Regions from separate parts of the Homo sapiens genome. Here region 2 is linked to region 1. The links come from fine-mapping of genetic effects on gene expression. Tissue or cell type: skeletal muscle. Region 1 holds a variant in brackets; the other region holds the start of a gene. All regions are shown on one strand. Distances are from middle to middle.

Region 1 (2,685 bases):
AAAATTTGCTGTCTAGAACTAGCATCTGCTGTCATCAAAGGTGGACTATCCTACAGGGCTCCAAAAGTGTTCTATAATAGAATTTCTAAGCAAAAGTGGCATTGTGGAAGTAATGTCACATCAATAATCTGTGGTGTCCATTTCAAACATTAGGCCAAAAAAAAAGTCATTTAATACCTTGTAGTGTTGATAATGTCACCATATCATGAAGTCGGCATGGTCATTGCCTTGTGTGTGCTGTAAAGATTCAGAGGATGAAATATTCTAATTAACTTTGTTGCATACTTTGATTCAAAATGAAATGAAAATGCTCAGTATTCATTTGCTACAACTGGGTAAATAAAAATTGTATTCCTGGTAATATCTCAGCACTGGATTGATTTGCCTCTTTTACCCAAAAGGGCAGTTGGAGCCTAAGTTGAATGACTGACTGATGGGAGGCAGCCATTCTGAGATTTCTAAAGGAAGCTCAGCTAGATCCATCTTCTTCCTCTTGGCTTGGTATAGGTTTAATTTTGATTTAGAAGTAACCTGATTTTACCTTTCCAAAGTGTTTCCTTAATTTAATCTCACAGATTTAAATTTTGAGAAGAGTAGTTCAGTCTCTCGATATGGAGCCTCTCAAGTTGAAGATATGGGGAATATAATTTTAGCAATGATTTCAGAGCCTTATAGTAAGTATTGCTTTTATAGTAGTGCAGTCCCAGAATTCATACTATTTTTCTCTTACCTATACTCAAATTTCCTCCTACAACTTTGTCTCCCTAATCACTAAAATGATGACTTTTATGTTCTCATTTTTAGATCACAGGTTTTCAGATCCAGAGAGAGTGAATTACAAGTTTGAAAGTGGAACTTGGTAAGTGCTTGAGTACTATTTATTTGAGCTTTTTAACTTGTTTTTTTTTTTTGTCTGTTTGTTTGTTTTTGAGACAGAGTCTTGCTCTGTCGCCCAGGCTGGAGTGCAGTGGCACGATCTCAGCTCACTGCAAGCTCCGCCTCCCG[G/C]GTTCATGCCATTCTCCTGCCTCAGCCTCCCGAGTAGCTGGGACTACAGGCTCCCGCTACCATACCTGGCTAATTTTTTTGTAGTTTTAGTAGAGATGGGGTTTCACCATATTAGCCAGGATGGTCTCAATCTCCTGACCTCGTGATCTGCCCGCCTCGCCTCCCAAAGTGCTGGGATTACAGGCGTGAGCCACCTCGCCCGGCCTTTAACTTGTTTTTGTTCATATTGTGCCTCTTAATTCTTGTTATATTTGAGAAACTTTACTAATCCTTTTAGCTATCCTTTCTTGCTGTTCGGTCATCTGTAAAAGAAGGTTGTATTACTTAGAGCTTGATATTGGGAATAAAATGTAATGACTTACTGGCATCTTTAGTCACCCTGACCTTAAGTATATTATATGCTCATATCTGTGATTGTTATTTTGGTCTCCCCAAACTATCCGATCTTTCATTTAGAAAATTTCCAAAGGAGAAATTGTAGGCTTTAATAGAGTTCACAATTTTTACTGAGATAAAATTTTACGTACATTCTATAAGTACATTTATTTATTTATTTATTTTAGTTTTGAGACACTTGCTCTGTTGCCCAGCTGGAATATCGCGGTGTGATCTCTGCTCACTGCAACCTCCGCCTCCCGGGTTCAAGCGATTCTTGTGCCTCAGCCTTCCCAGTAGCTGGGATTACAGATGTGTACCATCATGCCTGGCTAAGTTTTGTATTTTTAGTAGAGATGGGGTTTTGCCGTGTTGACCAGGCTGGTCTCAAACTCCTGGCCTCATGTGATCTACCCACCTTGACATCCCAAAGTGCTGGGATTACAGGTGTGAGCCATTGTGCCTGGCTATATAGGTTTCTACTTTAAAGCCAAGGAAATAGCTGGGGAGAAGTATGAAGTGGTGTCTGTTAGTGATCGCAGGTAGACCTGTTTGTAAATCACTCTAATGAATTGAGTGTGTGCTTGGTCTCTGAAGTGAATAGAAACTTCTGACAGCTTTGCCCATAGAGAGAGACTTTGAGGCCGATTAGTTGTGGAGAAAGTGACTTATTAAGAAAATGTCCTAGGAGAACTGAAAATGTGAACGTGGGAGGGATAAGACATCAAAAGGTGTCAAAATATATAATAAGTGATTTGCAAATGAGTCATTAAGGTGTAGGGACTCACAGGCATTTCTATGGACATTCTCTGGGATGGCTCCCTGGTTTGATCTGGGGGATATTTTAATGGCAGACTTCCTACCATGCACACACATTCCTCATGTGGGTTAATTGTCAGCTTTATTCTGATCCTAAATTCGGCTGCTAAACTGGATTTAAACCCCACATGTATACTGTCTAGATTTGAGAATGAATTCAAACCTATCTTTTGGGGTTCTAGGAACTTTCAGGACATGAGGGTGCCAAGCAAACATTTCCTCAGCTTTTTTTTTTTTTTTTTTTTTGAGAGGGAGTCTTGCTCTATTGCCCAGGCTGGAGTGCAGTGGCACAATCTCAGCTCACTGCAGCCTCCACCTCCCAGGTTCAAGTGATTTTCCTGCCTTGGCCTCCCAAGTAACTGGGATTATAAGCGTACACCACCATGCCCGGCTAATTTCTGTAATTTTAGTAGAGACGGGGTTTTACCATGTTGGCCAGGCTGGTCGCAAACTCCTGACCTCGGGTGATCCACCTACCTCAGCCTC
Region 2 (2,685 bases), 57 kb after region 1:
TGTTTTAAGGCAAAAAACATCTTTACGGGGAACCAGACATAAAAAGAGTTCCTGGAGGCCCTGCGTGGTAGCTCATGCCTGTAATCCCAGCACTTTGTGGGGCTGAGGCCGGTGGATCACTTGAGGTCAGGATTTCAAGACCAGCCTGGGCAACATGGTGAAACCACACCCCTCCACTTCTCTACTAAAAGTACAAAAAATTATCCGGGCGTGGTGGTGGGCACCTGTAAACCCAGCACTTCGGGGGGCCAAGGTGGGCGGATCACTTGAGGCCAGGAGTTGGAGACTAGCCTGGCCAACCAACATGGTGAAATCCCATCTCTACTAAAAATATGAAAATTAAGTGGTGGCTTGCGCCTGTAGTCCCAGCTACTGGGAAGGCCGAGGCACGAAAATCGCTTTAACCTGGGAGGCGGAGGTTGCAGTGAACCTAGATCGAGTCATTGCATTCCAGCCTGGGCGACAGAGCGAGACTCTGTCTCAAAAAAAAAAAAAAAAAGTTCCTGGAACCGTTTCTGCACATCACTGAAAAATGATAGCCTCTCCCCAAATATCCTAACTTAAAGGTGCTATTAGGAGAATCTTGCTGCCTGCTAATAATGGGGTGTCCATAATTACCCCATGACTTCAGTGAATTCTCGTGCCTGTTTCTCCCGATCTAAAATGGGTATATTTCATTTACTAAATTTACTTCTGAGTACTGTTGGGGAAAAGATCCCGGTGTTTGTTGAAGAATGCTAGATATAATGAAAGTTAAACACAGTTTAACAAATTAAAATTATTCCCTATTGCTCTGTAATATCTAATTGCACACTGCTCTACCCCAGACCATTGTATTATCTCCCCGCCCCCCCCCCCAGAATATCATGAAATGCAACATATTTGCTAAACCAGTTTTGGTGATTTAAAACAAGTTCCAAGCACAAGCTTCTTTCTTGTAATGGTCAAGTGGCCTACGAAACCAAAGCGCCAACTGAGAACGTTTTGCTGCTGCACTCTGAAATCCCAGCGAGAACGCAGGCAGCGATGGCAGTTCTGGAGCACCGGGTTCCACTTCTGCCTCTGACCGGCTTTGTGACTTCCACCACATTAGATCTGAGTTTCCTCCATGTAAAATGGGGCGGGAATGGAGGCTGGACCTGGGAGGTGTCGCTGATGATCGTCTCTGACTCGCTAAGTCGCGGAGTCACAAAAGTGGCGGAAAGCATGCCCTCACTTTTTGGGAAGAGTAGGACGAGGGGCGGGGCTGCAGCGAGACCCACCAGTCTCGCTTTCCAGGGCAGGCGGCGGCCAGGAGCTACAGCTGTGGGCTGCACTCCCGGCGTGGAGTCTCCTTCCTGCCCGCGCAGGCCCCGGCGCCCCAGCGAAACGCTCCGGCCGCTCCCCTCTCCCAACACTCTGGTTCCCGGGCCGCCTGCGGGGACGCGGTTGGCGGCGACACCGGAGGGGGGTGGGTCAGGAAGTGGGGGCGCGGCGGCCAGGAGCGGGCCCCCGGAGGCCGAGGGGTTCGGCGACGCGGAGGGAGGGAGAGTCTGGGCCGCGCGGGAGCCGCAGGGCGCCCTAGCCTTCGCAGAAACGATGGCGGAGGAAGAAGGTGATTGCCGCGGGGTCCAGCGCGCCAACGGCTGCCAGTGGTCTCGGGAAGGAGGGGCGGGGGCGCTGGAGGTCTGGGTTGGAGCTGCTGGTGGCCGCGGTCGCGGTGGCGGCCGCGCGGGCAGGGCGGGAAGGAGCGCGGCGCCCAGGAGAGGACTGCGGAGAAATTCAGGAGAGCGGAGCAAATGGCCCGAAGTTTTGTCGGCCGAATTGGGAAGCAAAGGTGGAGCTGAAAGTTGGGAATCCGTAGCAAGAGAGAAAGCTGTGCCGGGAGTGGTTGGGAAAGAGGGAGGGTCCTGATCAGATTCTTGGTGAAGTGGGAGGCGCAGTTTGGTTTCGAAGATCAGGTTTAGGTACTCAGTGCATATTTGGAATGCGATTTTTAAAGGGCTGTGGATATTGACAAACCCAGAGGCACAGGGGGCGAGGGAACATTCACCACGGGGATAAAGAGGCAGGGATTTGGGATAAACGTGGCAAGATTAATTGGGAATGGGCGAACACGCAGAAACTGAAGAAAGCCAAGTTCACTTAGGTTCAGGGGAAAATGGTAAAGAGCAGAGCCATCTAATTATTATAGTTTTGGGAGATGATGAGGCCAGGAGGCCTTTGAGGGTCAAAGTGGGTGAGCTGGAGAAAGGTTTCCATGCCGCCTTCAGGATCAATGCTAAGATAAGTAATTCATTCAGCAGTATTTTATTTATAGAAAATGATAAGTATGAGACAAAAATGGGAAGTTAGATGAAACTTATCGGTTAGTGATAAACAATACAAGGAATACTCATGGCATAGTAACTTCATGATAACCCCTACTAGTTTCAGGAAGTGAGAAGCAATTAGATTTTTGCATTCTGGTGGAAAACACAACTTTTTACCTTATGAGTGGAGCTGTGGATGTGATAGTAAATCGATCTAATTTAGACTCAAGCCCCCCTGCCTTTTTTTTTTTTGAAACGGAGTTTCGTTCTTGTTGCCCAGTCTAGAGTGCAAAGGCGCGATCTCGGTTCACCGCAACCTCCGCTTCCTGGATTCAAGCGATTCTCCTGCCTCAGCCTCCCTAGTAGCTGGGATTACAGGCATGCGCCATCACGC

Direction of the effects. Positions count from the first base shown, and alleles are read on the strand shown. Sizes are in standard deviations (SD) of each study's normalised expression.
For the expression in skeletal muscle of the gene that starts at base 1,480 in region 2, G is the low allele of the variant in region 1 and C is the other (small effect, 0.18 SD a copy in GTEx).

The links. PIP is the estimated chance that this variant, and not a neighbour inherited with it, causes the effect.
Region 2: DPY19L4 starts here. The variant in region 1 is fine-mapped to the expression of DPY19L4 in skeletal muscle (GTEx, PIP 0.96).

What each region holds. Positions count from the first base shown.
Region 1 is chr8:94,661,697-94,664,381 of GRCh38, forward strand. It overlaps ESRP1 (epithelial splicing regulatory protein 1), which reads left to right. Exons shown (of 16, transcript NM_017697.4): 5 at 576-674; 6 at 805-859. Among named protein-coding and RNA genes, the nearest start is that of ESRP1, 22 kb to the left of the region's middle. The variant G/C (reference allele first, on the strand shown) is at 1,006.
Region 2 is chr8:94,718,421-94,721,105 of GRCh38, forward strand. DPY19L4 (dpy-19 like 4) reads left to right here and starts at 1,480. Exons shown (of 19, transcript NM_181787.3): 1 at 1,480-1,594. The coding sequence starts at 1,579. RefSeq lists an enhancer at 573-1,527 and a silencer at 1,288-1,607.